Regions from separate parts of the Homo sapiens genome. Here region 2 is linked to region 1. The links come from fine-mapping of genetic effects on gene expression. A gene starts in region 1. The other region holds a variant in brackets. All regions are shown on one strand. Distances are from middle to middle. Region 1 holds the start of SLC40A1 (solute carrier family 40 member 1). Region 2 holds the start of ASNSD1 (asparagine synthetase domain containing 1).

The links. PIP is the estimated chance that this variant, and not a neighbour inherited with it, causes the effect.
Region 2: its variant is fine-mapped to the expression of SLC40A1 in whole blood (TOPMed, PIP above 0.99).

The regions. Positions count from the first base shown.
Region 1 is chr2:189,575,773-189,584,380 of GRCh38, forward strand. SLC40A1 (solute carrier family 40 member 1) reads right to left here and starts at 5,014. Exons shown (of 8, transcript NM_014585.6): 1 at 4,646-5,014; 2 at 4,041-4,108. The coding sequence starts at 4,688. RefSeq lists silencers at 4,968-5,027, 5,098-5,267.
Region 2 is chr2:189,657,279-189,665,886 of GRCh38, forward strand. ASNSD1 (asparagine synthetase domain containing 1) reads left to right here and starts at 4,181. Exons shown (of 6, transcript NM_019048.4): 1 at 4,181-4,332; 2 at 6,623-6,676; 3 at 8,098-8,173. It overlaps ASDURF (ASNSD1 upstream open reading frame), which reads left to right and starts at 4,181. Exons shown (of 4, transcript NM_001353493.2): 1 at 4,181-4,332; 2 at 6,623-6,676; 3 at 8,098-8,173. The coding sequence starts at 4,243. RefSeq lists an enhancer at 4,239-4,428. The variant CTG/C (reference allele first, on the strand shown) is at 4,027.

The DNA.
Region 1 (8,608 bases):
CAGTTTTCCAATTTGTAAAATGATGGGAATGGACCATATGATCTCCAAGTTTTCTTTCATGTCTAATATCCTAAAACCTATGAGATTTCATAAAGTCATAATTCGAAAGTCATAAAACAGCAGAGCGATTGGAAAGAGGAGTAGTAACAGCAAATTCTGGCACTGCATAAACAGTGATGTCAGAAATAAACTTAAATGCCTAAGTAAGTAGTTACGTTAACATTTTAATACAGATGAGTTTTGAAAGGGGGAAAAAGCTACTTATTTCTTCACACAAACTCCGGAGAATATAGGGAATTTTGGAGTTCATTACCGTGAAATGTGATTTAACAGAAACTTTTAAGTGAATTAGGCAAATTAATGTCTTAAAAAATCTACAGTGGACCTTATTATGAGATTTTAGGCTCCATCCCTGACTTCTGAAATTAACATTAAGGAGGACAACCATGTTCCATCATAACTTATCTCTGGGAATCCCTATAGGAAACCAAATTCCAGGCCTCATAGATTTGACCCTACAGAAATACTTCTACTCCTAGTTCTTCCCAAAGTCTGTTAACATCTTCATGAAAAAATCCATGTATTAGAAGCAAATACTATCCTGGTATGTCAAATAATTTTAAAAATTTAATGAAGCCAAGATAATAATTTTATACATTCAAAACTTAAATTGATGCATGTTAGCAATCATTTACAAAAAAACTTCCTGTAGACCAGTAGTTCTCAACTAGAGATGACTTTGCTTCTCCTACCCCCACCCCACCTCCCCGGGGATCATTTGGCAATGCCTGGAGTAATTTTGAGTTGTCACAACAGCAAGGGGGTGGAGCTGTTACTTAATCTTTAACCTGAAAAGCAAATTTAGATTTGATTAGGATAAAATGGGATAGGGAGAGGGGAGATACTTTATTCTAATCTCCATTCCTCTGAATAGCTCCCAAGGAAAAGACAAAAACACACACATGTCCCAAATGATAGGTTGCCTCTGTCAGAGAGTTTTCTCTTTCTTAACATACAGGTTAAGAAACACTTTTCTAATACTGTTGTTTCTTTCTTTTTTTCTTACTCTTATTGTATTTTTTAATTGTCTTAGAGTCCTCTAAAGCAAGACATCAAGACAAATGCTATTAAAGTTTTGAATCTTGCTTTTTCTTGCATGCCATACCACCTCTTTGATGGAAAGAAAGAAATTGCTCACATTACCCCAATTTCCAACGGGCTTAGGCTTTAAGAAGCAACAGATTCTATGTTTACAAAAAGCCCAATATTTGGGTAAAGTCTATGTAAATATTGACCAAGTGCCCATCCTTCCTTATTTCCATTTCTTGCCTTCCCACCAATTCTCACTAAACTTGGATGACCTATTTATGTGTCCATGTACCCCCACGGGACTGAGAGCTGAAGGCAAACCTAATAACTGTCAATGAATGATCATGGTCCTCAATCCACTTAATACTTACTAAGTGGCTACTATGTACCCGACATTTGCAAGCACTAGAGCTTCAGCAGCGCACAAAAGGTTTTCATGCAGCTCACATTCCAGTGAGCACAGACCAAAAGCAAATCTAGCACAGGGCACGTGCTGCTATGAGGAAATATAAAGTAGGATGGAGCTGGTGGCAACAAAGGCCTCCATGAGCAAAGTGAGCCTCTGGGAAACGAGGGCTGGAGAAATGCAGACATATTGGGGTTTAAATGGAGAGAGTTTGTAAGATCATGTTATCAGATATAAGCAACTGGCCCCTCTTTTTCACTGTCTTACACTGTCATCTTTTTGTTATTAGATATCTTTTTTAAAGCCCATACTAAATTGTATTATAAGCTCCTTGACAATAGTATCCACTTTTTTTTTTTTTTTTTGAGACAGGGTCTTATTCTGTTGTCCAGGCTGGAGTGTAGTGGTGTGATCACAGCTCACTGCAGCTTCAAACTCCTGGGTTCAAGCAATTCTTCCACCTCAGCCTCTCAGTAGCTGGGACTACAGGTGTGTCTCATGACACCTGGCTAATTTTTAAATTTTTTTTTGCAGAGACAGAGTCTCCCTATGTTGCCCAGGCTGGTCTCAGACTCCTGGGCTCAAGGAATCCTCCTGCCTCCCAAAGTGCTAGGATTACAGGCATGAGCCACTGCACCTAGCCAGGATCCACTTCTTACACTATATTGTATTTTGATAATATAGAGTAAAATGCATTGATCCATTGGCAGATAGAAATGAAGTCAGAAATAAAAGGCATTCAACCCCACACAAAACTAACCTGAGGCAACCTTCTACTCTAATGCCCCTACGTTCAGTGCATAAGAAATCATGACTTGGCAGGGTGGGACGGAAAATGCATATATATATAATACATATACACACACACATAATACAGAAACATAAATGTTTTGTTGTAACAAAATCAGGCAGAGTGCCACACAAGAGAAAAAACATAAAAAGCATAATTACCTAGTGTTAGAGACATTCCTCTTTTGCACTCCTTTGCAGCGGAAAGGAGTAAAAATCCACTAAACCTTATATGATTGTAGTTGCTGCTGTTTGTTTAATCCAACTTTCTCATGAGAACTTCCTTTGCTTGACTTACTGTAAAGTTGGGATAAGCATGTGTCACCTTTCTTGTGGGACTTTTAATGAACATGACAAAATATCCTCCTGGAACAACCACGGTGCCACTGGTTTTCTGGCAAATCTGACCTCCTAACCTATTAACCAAAGGTCACATAAACCATAATCAGAACTTGGAAGAGAGGCATCTTCTTCCTCTAAGAGCAAGGCCAGACCACAGGCTGAGAATTTCAGATACTATTCCCATCACATGTTATTAATACTTAATATTTACTGAATTAAACTGGGGGAACAAACTATTGCTTTTTATTTATTAAGGGTTGTTTCACTAGGTTTCTACTTAGCATCATCAGCTGTTGGAATTAAAACAAACTCACACCAATTCCACTTTGTTTACATGTATTTGCAGAGTCACCCCTGTGTAAGCCTCTGGTAAGATAGGAGCTTGCTTTTCTAAAATGTCATCTATAAACTGCTATTTCTTAGAGAACCAATAATGTAGCTTAACAATTTCTCAAAGGTATTGGGTATAGATTTCCTCTTCCAGTGGTTTCCATCCATGTCTTAAGGATGATCCAATATAAGTTTCCAATTTAAAAGGAAAATAACATTCAAAAAATTTACTCTCAAAATTCTTTCCATTCTTTTTAAATACATATGAGCCATGGACAGAATATAGCCAGATTTATTGCTTTTAAACAATAATTGTTTAATGTTAAAGATTCTAATCATCACTGAACATATATCTAGCACCCTTCTAGTTTATTATTTTTCGGAGAGAGTTTTAGGAGCCCAGATCTACAGAAACACTAGGTCTTTTCCAGGACAACCTAGAAAGTCAGAGGGAAAACTGTAAATCCATTGCTGATATTCATTGGATGATTAATTTTAAGATAGCCTCCACTGCCCCAAACTTTATCTAACTATAGATAACATTTTTAAAGACCAGAATTTTTGTCACTCAGATATTTGTTCTGGGGGTCATTTATGTTTCAATTAATCTTAGAATGTTATTATTAGCTTAAGTCAGTCACTCTACCATTCTATTGTATTCTCATGGTGCTGCACGCTGGAACTAAATTTTAACAAAAAAAGAAAACAAAATATTTTAAAATGTGAAGAAGAGAAGGTATATGAGACATCCATCCATCTTTTGTAGCAGATATGTCTATTTACCAAAGCTACTAATGCAACATAAAATTTAAAAACAAGGCAAATATTCCTTTCCTTGATAATCTTGTCTGGATAGTTGTCTATCTACATAAACTACGATGATCTGATAATTAAGTTGCATTAACTAACACTCATGGGGAAAGATCTTCGATGTAAATAACGTTTTCATTAAAGCATGTGTACTTGGATGATTTATTTCTTTAACTGCTTGACAAAACTGGAAGTTGGCTTAATACAACTGGCTAGAACGAAAGGAAATAAAAAATTGCGCAACTGTGTTGTAAGACTATGCATTCTCACTTACCCAAGTAGAGAGAGAATGACCAAGGTAGAGAAGGAATTTTGCAGAGGTCAGGTAGTCGGCCAAGGATCCTGCAAAGACACAGGCGGGGTGACAAAAAGCGATGGTAGTCACTTAATGAGCTGAGGGCAGAATGCTTATCCATTTGATCTCATTAGAACATGATTATTAAAAACTACTTTGCAGGACAAACCACGTACATTTTATCAAGTTACCTATGAACCGATGTATTTCGTTCACTTAATACCATTCACTAAATTCAGTTATTGACCTAGTCAATAACTGCCCAACTTCACATTTCACATACAGTGAAGAAACTCTTGTTTCAGCATTCTTTTTTGGGTTGGTTGGTTTGTTTGTTTTGTTTCTTTTTTACACAAGGCAATCCAAACTGCCCAATCTACTCCATCCGTGCCTGTGTGCAAACCCCTTTTCCCACACCCTGAATTTCCTTTCTTCCTTAACGTCCACCAAATATGAGTCAAAGGATCTTTTTACAAAGCTATGGTTCACAGCAGAGCCACATTCCTCCAGAACTCGTGTAGAGTTGCTTGTCTCCAAAGCCCCACCTGGGTTTCCACCATATGCTTTCGGTCAACGACACTCACCACAGCATCCTCTCTGGCGGTTGTGATCTCCCGCCCTGGTCATGACACTAGGCGACCCCGCTGGCTCTTCTGCGGCTGCTATCGCTGCTGCTGCTCTCGCTGAGGTGCTTGTTAACAGGAGTGCAAGGAACTGGAGATAGCACCTCTAAAAACACAACAGCCTTGGGCAAAAAGACTACAACGACGACTTTGGCAAAGAACAAAAGAAAAGGGGCCCAGGGATTTTCTTTTTTCCTTCTTTCCAAACTTAGCTAACACTGTAGCTGAAGTTGGAAAGGCAAAGCCTTATGGAAGCGGTTTGGGAGGCTCAGCAGGTCGTCCGAGCCTAGCGGACGCCCTGAGCCAGCTCTCTCCGCCGCCGCCGCCGCCGCCGTGGGCCGGGCCCAGCTCTTATACCGAGTCGGGGGCGGAGCTCCCTGCGACCTCCGACTGGGGCCGCCCCGTCCCCTTCAGGGCCGCCCGGGCGTCCCCGCGGCGCGAGACGAGCTCCCGTCAACCTTGCGCGCCGGGCCGTCCCCGCGCCCTTGCCCGGAGGAGTCGCCCACCCCGGGCGCAAGCGTCCAACCGGCCGCAGACACCCTGCGCGGCTTGCGGGGACCTTCGCCTCGACGCGTTCCACTCCCCGGGTTTTCCTGCTCTCCGGGAAGCCGCGAGGGCAACCTCGGGGGGCGGCCGTGGGGCTGGGAAAAGGAGGAAGGCGCGTGGAGCCGGCGGGGCGGCGTAGGGAGATTCTGCGCGAAACTAAGCGTCAGGTGCTGGAAGAAAGCGCTGCGCACCGGCTACCCCGCAGTTCAGGGAAAGGGCGGCCGCCGGACGGTCGCAGTGCAAAGCTCCAGCGCGAGCTTGGTGGGTGGGGATTCCTTTTTTAACGAAAATAATTTTTAATACAGGTATCTAAATAAATATAATTCATGCCACAGAGGCCGCTTTCCTGGCCGTCCCATTCCGGCCCGCCTGCAGCAGAGAATGCCTTTCCTTCCCCGGACTGCATAGCAGGGCTTCCCTCAAAGAACCAGAATCAAAGGGCAGGAAGGGGGCGCAAAGATCAGAGTCCATCCCTCTTGAGAGGAGCAAACGGAGGCTTGCAAAGGTGAAGTCCCGCAGCGAGTTACAGACCTACCCGTATCCCCAAACTGGGGCCTCCAAATCCGTCCTGGAGACAGAATGAGGATGCTGCAGCCCCAGCAAACCCTTCACCATCATTCCTTCTCCCTCTGTACCCTCTCACCCCGCCCCCACGCGCGCGTCCCTTCCCCACCTAACCTCCAAATGCCCCAGTGACAGGCTTACCAGGAATACCGGTTATCCCAGTTGTGTCCCTGGATCTGTCCCTGTCCAGATAAAGCCATTCGGTGGCCTCCTGGAGGGTGAGGTGAATGACTAAAGAACACCAGACTCTAGCCTTGGTTGACTTCGTTTTAATCCTGCTGTGCCAAACCAACCCCTGGGGCATACCAGCCCCTTTTGCCAGTAGGTTACCTTACCCTTCTTAATCTCACGAAAACCCTGGTAGTGGATCCTACATATTGAAACTCCAACCAGATGCCACACCTTGAGCACAGGCCAGACTGACACCCAGTAGTGAAGGGAGCCACGCATGAGTATGTGCCCTGTATCTGCACTCTCAATCAGGAGCCCCAAAGGTCTACGGGGTGGGTGCAGCTGGATTCGGTTGGGATGTGGTCTGGTGAGTAGAGATAGGGGTTACAGTTTAACTACTGCTTTTCACTGCTTTTTGCCTTTTCAAGCCCTCTTTTTTCCTTTCTTTCACACGACATTCAAGTTCTTTCTCCCAATTTAGAGAGGTTTTGGTTTGCTAACCGTGGAGAATAGGGTCATTTATACATGCATCCTTGAGAATAAACCAAAGTATACTCAGATGAGTGAACTAAAGTGAAGGAGTGAACTGGTAAATAAACCCCTCCACTTTATGGCGATCCCTTATTAGAGATGAATTTTTTGACAGGTCCTCAACAAGGCACAAAGGATAGTGATAGTTTGCACATTTGTCAGAGTGTGTCTCAGCAACAAGGACCTCCAAGTGCTTTACATTAATTATTACATATTATAAGAAGGGGTGTCATGCTGTCCCCAACTTCCAGGTGGCTTTTTAAAAGTTCGGTTGGTTAAAAAAAAAATTACTTCCCGTAGACACTGTTTAAGAAGTATTTGTGGAAAGAGTGGCTAAGTCAGCATATACCTCAAAATGTGATATGGAGTCTCTGTTCTCCATTGTCACCAAGGAGTCCCCAGAAGCCAAAACCGAGAGAATGTTATAAAGAACAAATGGGATACTGCAGTGAAGCAAGTAGGAAAGATACTTTGGAAAGAAAACAAGCAAGGTTCATGACATTAAAACCAGTGAGTGAGCTGTGGAAGGGGAATCTTAAATCCTAATTAATGAGAATAGTTGAGATATGTTAGTTGGGGCTTATGAAATGGAAAGAAATTGAAAATGAAAATAGAATAAAAATCCTCAAACTATTCAGAAAGTGCAAAATGACAGAATTCTTTTGGCTTTGACATGCTAGGTTACAAAGCACCGCTTTAATCACAAGACCCTTCGGGCTCTTCCTCCTTCTGAGAAAACATTTGACCAGTTGAAAATTAAGATTTCTTCCAAAAGTCATATATATGTTTTTGAGAACACAGAACATACAACATTCCCATCAATTTAATCTAACTAAGAAAGTCATGCAAGTTTTAAGTCAGTTTACAAAAAATAGTAGATACCCTAAAGACCATGTGCCAATTCATTTTCAACATGTTTTAAAGTTTGTAACTAGGTTAACCACCTTTTTAAAAATCCCAGCCAGAATAAAATGTATATGGCTATTTAAAATTCATTTAAAGTGTTTATAGTTGGGAAATAAAAACGGTTTTATCATTTCATTTTTAAGTTGTCTTTTCACTTACCGGCCAGGCATCCTCAGTTTCCTCTGCCATATCAGATGTGCTCACCAGGACAAAGGCAGAATAAAGAATGGTCACTATTCCACTGCTCTGAAGAAAAAAAGTAATAGGGTTATCACCAACTATTACAGGAAGGGCTCCAATCCAGGACTGTGCTTCTGTTGGATGTGAACCTTTTTACATTAACTTAGGAGCTATAAAGCCACGTTTCCATTCAAAAATCTTTCTCAGTGTTACAGGCAAATTTCAAGAACGGTTTTATATTTCTATAATATGAATGAATGGCTCTTGAGAAGTTTAAGTTCAACATCTACTTTAAATTACAGACATCCTATTGAAAGATAAATATCCTCCCAGGTCTTCATTTTGTTTGAACATTTCAAATAGATTTGACCTTGCGAAGTTTCTTATGAATGCTGGCTCTCATTGGGGGTGCTCTCTTGCTTCCTCTCTCTCATACACACACACACACACACACACACACACACACACATATACACAGTAGTCTACAGTTTCTAGTTGGAAAAATTAAATACAGAATTCAGAAGATTCCAAAAGAAATATACTCCTAAGGCAAATCCATAGAGACAGAGAGCATATTGGTTGTTTTCAGAGCCTGGGAGGAGGGAAGAATAGGTAGTGACTGCTTTATGGGTGTGTAGTTTCCCTTTGGGGTGATGAAAATGGTCTGAATCTAGATAGTGGCAATGGTTTTGCCACAATGTGAAATAATAAAAGTCACCAAAATGGCTCAAGTGGTGAATTTTATGTTATGCAAATTTTAGCTTGATTAAATATATATATATTCTTAAAAGGAAAGTTTGCCATTTTTCAATAATGGTATTGATTGAGATAAATGTAGGCCAAATGTAGTCTCAGGAGATCTTAATCAAATAGAAAGAGACTGTAGAAAGAAAAAAAGAGAAGTCTTGTCCATTACGCTGACTGGAAACTAAAACATGGAACTAAGTTAACTGTTTAGTTTTCTCCATATACAGCCAGAAAATACATAAAATTCTATTTAATAAATATTTCAGTCTCTTAACTTTT
Region 2 (8,608 bases), 82 kb after region 1:
AACCATTGAACAAAGAAAACTTTAGGCACAGATAAATTCACTGGAAAATTCTATATAATATTAATAGAAGAAATAACATTAATTCTACAAAAACTCTTCCAAAACATAGAAAGGAAGTATTAAAATAATAAATCGGAAGGCCATTACACTGAAGCAGCTCTAGAGCTGAGTGCCTACCTAAACAAACCAAAAGCTAAAAGGTTATATTCTAGGTAAACAGAACTTAGCTTAACCAATCAGAAACCAACAACTAACCTCTAACTAGGGATTTTCCAATGGAATGATCCAAATAAGGCTACTGGTCCACTTTAACCAATCAAATATTTTCTTTGCCTTGCATCCATATTTGAATCTTTGGGAAAGAGGTGGACAGTGGCACTCATATGGAATAGTTCTAGAAGAAGCCAAGATAATTTCGATTAACCTTCTTTATAGCTGTCAGACTATGTGAAGATACAACAGGCATGGGCAGCATATAAAACATCTTTCATTGGTGACATTCACAAACCACACTGACCTCTAGATTGTAAAACAGAACTACCAACAATGAAATTTTCAAATCCAACTGGCAGGAGAGCAGTGGATTGGAAAGAAGACGAATATGCTTAGATGAGGCATGTGAGGCACCTGGGCAGAAAATTTAAAGAGCACTTACTGCAGGACCTGAGAGTCAGTGCATCTTCAAATTTGCACCCTACCACACTCACCACATCCTGTTTCAGCCCTGCACAAGAGCTCCAAAGTGAAGTTGGCTGCAAGCGTCAGGGAGGCCTGATGTCCGCATTCCACAGCTTTGAAGCAAAGCTTGAGAACCAGCCTTATCTCAAGTAAAAAGGATTTACTAATCTCTAGACCAGTACTTGGAAACTCTGCCATTTCCCTTGAGAGACCAAGACCAGCCTGATGTGCTTTGTTACTAGGGCGACAAAGCATTCTCCCTGCGTTCTCCCTGCAAAGAGTTTATGGTAAGGATCCAGTAGTTCCTTTCCCAGATCCTAGAGCCTTGTGGAAAACATCAGTCCAATATCTCAGGCCCTGTCACCTTCTGGCAGAATTATTGATATAAATCACCTATTTAGACTGTGATATTACCTCTCCTTTGACTTCACCCCCTTGGTCCTACAGCCTACCTTACTTCCCCCTCTCCAACCCCCTCCCCCCACCGGCAATTACCAGCACTGTCTACTTGCTGAGATTTCCCTTTGGTCTGCTAGTCTACGCCTCTTAGAAGAGTCTGTAGTTGAGTCTGTCTCCTTTCAAATGACTTCCAGTCTGTCCTACCCATCAGAGTTAACAGAACCATCCAATCACTGTGACAACCAACAGTACCTCCAAACATTTTTTCAAGCATCAGCTAGGGAAACCCCTAGCTCTGTTGAGAATCACTGGAAGAGAAGACATAGTTTCCAGTTGTATGGTGGGCTGCAGATGGGCAGTCCTGAGCCAGTTAGGCATGACACATGGTACTAGCTAACCCCAAAGCTGACTTCAAGCAATGCAGAAGTTAGAGCAGCTGAAGGAGGAAATAGAAGCAAATAGATAAATATTTTTTAAATAAGACAAAGTGTGAAAGCACTTTTAAGACAGTTTAGCACCATACTAAAATTATTATCACCACTTTGTTTAGTACTATTTTGTTTAGTACTATGTTGTCTTGGGCAGCCCTTGTGAATAAACAAAAACATCAGAACCTGGCAGAGCCGTAAGCAACAGCCCACTTCCCAAAACGGGGTGAACAGCTGTAGACCAATCAGCGGTGTTGGGTGTTTCCGGCTACTCGATGTGGACATGATTGTGAGTCAGAACCAATTCAAACTTTAACCAGAGCTCCCACTCTGCCAGACACTATAATAGAAGGTGGGGTACAAAGAAGACCAATAGGCTAGGATGCTCAGTCTCATCAGCTTTACAGATAAGCCTCACTATTACCTCTAAACAAAGTGGAAGCCAGTCCTGGCAGCGCACACCTATAACCCCAGCATTTTGGAAGGCTGAGGCGGGCAGATAGCTGGAAGCCAGGACTTTGAGACCAGCCTGGCCAACATACTGAAACCCCATCTCTACTAAAAATACAAAAATCAGCCGGGCATGGTGGCACACACTTGTAATCCCAGGTACTTGGGAAGCTGAGGCAGGAGAATAGCTTGAATCCAGAAGGCAGAGGTTGCAGTGAGCAGAGATCGCACCACTGCACTCCAGCCAGGGCAACAGAGAAAGACTGTGTCTCAAAATAACAACAACAACAAAGTGAAGTGATACTTCACTTTGGAGCTCTCTTTTTCCTAAACTTGGATTCTTAAAATGTTTCTAAGCTAGCAGTTTTGTAAGAACTTTTTTCCTTAAAAATCTGGCACATTTAAAGTATTGGAAATTCTGGGCTTTTAAAAATATTGGGATTATACCAGTGCTTATTTTTCTCTATAAACTAGTCAGAACAGAGGCCCTTTAATTAGAGATACTATAGTGGGATTTATTAATACACTCCAGAAGTAGGGAAATATTTCATATTTACAAAGGGAGACATAAAGCCTGTTCTAAGTTACAGACACACAGACACATAAAGAGGTTATTGCTTCTGTCTTACAACTTCAATCTCAGGTCAAAAGTAAACACAAAACCACAAAAATTCACCAGTTCTTCTGCTTGAGCGGCCTTTATGTTAAAACAAACAAACAAAACCTTACTAGCCCACATCTCAAATAGCTGTCCTCCTTCCCTCTCAGTGGACACAAAAGTAATTAATTAATTTGAGCTCACAAACAATAAACAAAAAGACTTACAAACTCGCTTCTCTGTCACCTCTCTTATTTATTTATTTGAACCCCTGGCCTCAAGTAATCCTCCCACCTCAGCCCCGAGTGGTTGCGATTACAGGTTTGAGCCACTGCACCTATCTACCTCTCTACCAATGAGACTAGACGTCCATCATCCAACAGATACCACCAAATGGTTAGACCACAAAACCAAACTCCCAATCATTGCTGCTATCAATGTATCAGTAATGTATAAGTTATACCTGAATAACTTATCAGGAATGTACAAATCAGAAATGAAAACACAATCTTTAAAAATCAATTATAAAGGAAAAATATATAACCACTTGGGTTTTCTGTAAGAGCAAATAAAAAACATGCCTGGCCTTAAACAACCCATGATGTATACATTTCTTTCGCCAGATAGTTTGATTCATCACATAAATCCAGTTGGGCATCTCTGTGGAAACTTAAGATTTCCAATAATATAGTATAATTATCAAAAACCTAAAATCATGTCTCTAATGTGAACATAAAATATATACATGTCAAACTTTTATTCAACTCATTGGTTAGTGAGGGAACCGATGACTTTAAAACCAATACAGAATATTAGAGAAGCTAGGCATATGTTAATAAAGAAATGTTAGGACAGAATGCAGGGTTAGATACAAAACTGACTAATGTGTTGCAGAACAATAAATCATAACCTGTGTTGGTATCTGGTACAACAAAAAATTATTTGCATCTCTACCAAACCAAAATCTCTACCAAAGTTAACCTTTGCCCCTACAGAATTGTAAAACAGCCCAGTCAATATAATAAAGTCAAGTCCAGAGCAGCACTGAAAGAGCATCCAGTAAATAAATCTCTTTTGCCTATTTCCAAGTTTTAGTCATTTTTTCCACAGAAATGAGATATTGCAAATATTGCACGGGACATAGATGCACTAAAAAACTATTAATTCATCTGAAGTTCATACTGTATTTTATCCGGCAACCCTAACCACGAGTTAACCAAAACTTTACCAAGTCTGTACAGTTCTTTTGCCAACACGGTATCTCTTAAATCTGTTCCTTAGCTTCATCTTTCCCTAGATAATAAATATCATATTAAGCGCTGTTTCTATTGCACGACTATTCTTCATATTTACCACTGGAGGGCGCACAGAACTCGTAGTATACTAGATAAGAGGTCATGAAGAAACCACCTGAGCGTTTCTGCATCTCAACCACAAGAGGCCAGTACAGGAACCTCAGATTTTGCAACCAGA[CTG/C]TTTACTCGCTCCCTAAGCAGCCATGCGCAGGCGCGAAACTCCTCCCCAGGCCAGACCCGGCCTGCGCATGCGTTCAAGTGAGCGCGCAGACGCTATTGGTAAGACTCGCGGGAAAAGAAAGGGTGAGCGCGGCTGGAAGCGCGCATGCGCTGTGGCTAATGCCGTAGGCTCCTTCAGGGCTGAGCCATCCCGCGTGTCTTGCGCTCGGTGGAAATGCCCAGCCGAGGGACGCGACCAGAGGACAGCTCTGTGCTGATCCCCACCGACAATTCGACCCCACACAAGGAGGATCTAAGCAGCAAGGTGAGTGTGAGACGCGACGAAAAGGCTCCTGGACTCGGGACCGGGCGCCACTGGACCCTGAAGGTGGTCCGCAGCGGGCAGCGTGGGGCCTGCCTGGGCCTCGGCTTTGCCCTGCTACTTTGCTCTTTTTATTCATAGCACTTGACAGCCACAGTTAGTCCTTTTATTTTCTGAAAACAGTTGCGAAAAGGGAGATCTTGAAATTTGTCCCGAGACTGGACCCAGGTGACAGTGGGGCGGAGTTTTGGTTGGGTGTTTTCCTCCCTAGTCTTTTTAAACTTTTGGAAATACCGCCCACCCCAAATCTGTTCCATCAAAGATATTCTCCATCCAGTTAACCATGCCAGCAACCCGGGGTCCATCCTTGACCCCCATCATGGAAGCCTATCAGTTCTACCTTTGAAGCTCATTTCAAATATGTCCCTTTATCACCGTGAACACTCTTACCACCCCAAATAAGCCACCGTCATCTGCTATCGGGACCCCTGCCCCCGGCAAGGCCTTCCTAAGCGGTCTCTCCTCATCCACCTGTTAGCTGCTGCTTCTCCGTTAACCAGAGCAATGGTCCTAAAACACGCATTGGGTTGTCACTCATACCAAACTGGGGGAGAGAGGAAGCCAATATAATATAAGCCTTAACTGCCATAAACAAACAACCTTTAAAGATAAATGGGGGTGGCGAGGGTTATAGCCCTTCAGGTATTACATGTCCTAGATTCTACTTTGGTTCTGTCCCAAACTTACAATGACATCTTGGGCAAGTCTCTTTAATCTTTCTGTATCAGTTACCTTCTTTGAAGTAAAGTGAAATGTACACCTGTCATTCCTAAAATGGGAAAGCCCTGTATAAATGTTAAGTCTCAAAGAATGTTTACAAATTTGGCCTTGGAATTCAACCTCATTACTACAGCTCTGCCAACGGGGGAGACAGAAAGGTGCACATTCATGGGGATTGGGGGTGAATTTTCAAAAGACACACAGCCCATTCTGATTACCACCATAGCAAGCCACTTACGCATACTGGTGGTTACAGATCCCTGAGGTGTGTGTGAGGTAGCACAAATATGATAAAAGCTGCTTTTAGAGGCTCTTGTGATACTATGTAATCAGTCATGTTCACAAAATAAATAGAGTTAAAAAGAAACTTAGTTTTCACTTAGTTGAGCCCTCCCCTACAAATAAATGAAGCCCAGGCCAGCATGGTGGCCCAGGCCTGTAGTCCCAGCTACTCGGAGGCTAAGGTGTGAGAATCGCCTGAGCCCGGGAAGATCAAAGCTGCAGTGAGCCGTGATCGCACCACTGCACTCCAGCCTGGGTAACAGAGCAAGACCCTGTTTCAAAAAAAAAAAAAAAAAAAAAGCCCAGTTCAACAGTGCCAGCTCTATGCTAGTCATTGAGATAAAAAGAGGGAAAAATACCAAGATGGAACATGATAGGTCTTACTGTCCCCAAATAGGGCATTGCTTGATTTGAATGTTTGACTGCAGCACTTAGTACATAAAATCATGAAAATATTGAAAAAAGTAACCCACCCCTCATTCAATTTGCTTTTTTTTAAATCTAAATCACAACTTAATTTTCAATCTAAATCACAACTTAATTCCTTTTGGTGTATATCATATATATATATTTTTTAAATTATTTATTTATTTATTTTTTTGAGACGGAGTTTCACTCTTGTTGCCCAGGCTAGAGTGCAGTGGTGCAATCTTGGCTCACTGCAGCCTCCGCCTCCCGGGTTCAAGCAGTTCTCCTGCCTCAGCCTCCCGAATAGCTGGGATTACAGGCATGTGCCACTACGCTTGGCTAATTTTGTATTTTTAGTAGAGATGGGGTGTCTGCATGTTGGTCAGGCTGGTCTCGAACTCCCGACTTCAGGTGATCCGCCCGCCTTGGCCTCCCGAAGTGCTGGGATTACAGGCATGAGCCACCGCACCCGGCCTGGTGTATATCATATATTTTTAACAAAAGGTATAAACCTTGTTTAGTAACTGTAGTCCTTGGCATGATTGCTGGTTATGAACACGAAAATCCCTGTCTGGTCTTAATGGGTTACCTAACATTTTGCAAGTCTAATCACTGTTTTTTCTCCTCCAGCTTTTCCTGAACTGTACCCCCACACAGAGACTCCTGTTGAAAATGATCTGTATATTCACAAACTGCCCGTTTGGAAAACCAGTACATCATAGCCCCTTATCCCATCTCTAATTTTAAAACAACCCCTTAAGGGATTTTCATTGAGCATACTTTGAAAACATCTGACTTAAGGAGTTTTTCTTTATTTCAATAGATTAAAGAACAAAAAATTGTGGTGGATGAACTTTCTAACCTTAAGAAGAATAGGGTGAGTTATTATAGGAATTCTGAATAATATGTGGGAGGTTTATTTATGTTAACTATATATTAAAGTTATAAGAAGTATATATAAGATTTAATCATACTTTAATAAAATGTATAGTATTTCAGCATCTTTTAAAATTGCAAGTGTCTAGATTCTTTTTTTAAATGGATAGATCTCATAGCTGAAGATGTCTTTTTTCTATCATATGCCATTCACATTGCCTTTGCAACAAATGATACTAGTTGTATTTTGGTATCTTGGAGCTATAATCACTAATGATGTTTTATACCTGAATTTGATGTTTTCTTTTGATATAAACGAACTTTATATTGAGATGAGAAGAAACTTTTCTTTTAAATGAATGTGGATAATTATTGAACAAAAAAGGATACATTGCTTCCCCTCCCTCCAAAAAATTTTTACATAGATTTTCCTAAATGTGTAACATGGTTATTTAATGCCATTTCCATTAATATGTTACAAACAAGTAAGCTACTGCTTTGTGTATGGTTATAGTGTCAAATTGCATTTTAACATTCAGGAAGAAATGAGTTTGAGCTCTTAAAAGCTTTGTAAAGATTATGTAATAACTGGCTGGTTAGATATTTCTGATATTGTCACTTATGGAATATTAGAAGTTGAGGCACATACAAAAATTAGCCAGGCGTGTGCCTGTAATCCCAGCTACTCAGGAGGCCGAGGCACAAGAATCGCTTGAACCTGGGAGGCAGAGGTTGCAGTGAGCTGAGCACACCACTGCACTCCAGCCTAGGCTACAGAGCAGGACTCCTTCTCAAAAAAAAAAAAAAGAAGTTGAGGCAGAATTAATACAGACTTTCTCTAGAGGGCAAATTGGCAAAAAGTCTCAACAATTCAAAACTATAACACTTTGACCCAGCAGTTCCATTTATAGTAGTTGATACTTAGGAGAGAATCATGGTAGTGCACAAAGATTTAGTTACAAAGATAATCATCACAACCTTGATTTACAATAGCAAAGAGATGGTAACACCTTAAATGTCTAGTATTTGAAGCTGAGCAAATAAACTGTAATATATTATATCTATATAGCAGTAGGTATAATTTGGTCACCATAGCTTGCTTTGGCATTTTGGTGTTCTTGTAAAAGAACACTTACTGATAAGAAAAAGTATTCTCAATATATTGCTCATTGATAAAAGCATAAATCTGCAGGTACAGTAAGAACCTTTTTTGTTAAAATGGAGAGAAAATAGTTTCATTTCAGTAGTAGCAATTTCTGGTAGTTGGGCAGTGGGTGACTTTTATTTGTCTTTTTGCTTGTCTGTATTTGCTAAAGTATTGTACTGAATAGATTTTCAAGAATTAGTGATAATAGGGTTTAAGGATTTTAATATCTACTTTTTAGATCAAAATTTGATATTAGCCTAAATTATGTTTTCCAGAAAGTATATAGGCAACAACAGAACAGCAATATATTCTTTCTTGCAGACCGAACAGAAATGCTGTCTGAGAGCAAGAGTAAGTTTTTTCTTTTTTGGGGTTTTTGGGGGGTGCCTAAATTATACTCATCTGAGTGTTAAAATATATATCTAAAGATTAATGCAGCAGTTTGATTTTCTTCAAATTAGGCTTCCGAAGATGAGTCAACAGTTATATATATATGTGTATATATATATATATATATATATATATATATATATATATATATATATATTATAAATGTTTTAGAAAGCAATAGTTATTAACATGTGCTTTAGAATTTTAAACAGGTCTAAGTATGACAAACCATTACCACTTTCTACCTTTGTGACTTTGGGTGAAATACTTTAAGCCTCCAAGGTATTGTGGGATCTAAATAAGATGCTATGTTAAAAGTGCTTAGCCAAGTGCTTGGGCCAAAATCAGCACTCGGCAAAACAGAAGCTATTTTTCTAAAAGATAAACATTCTTTAT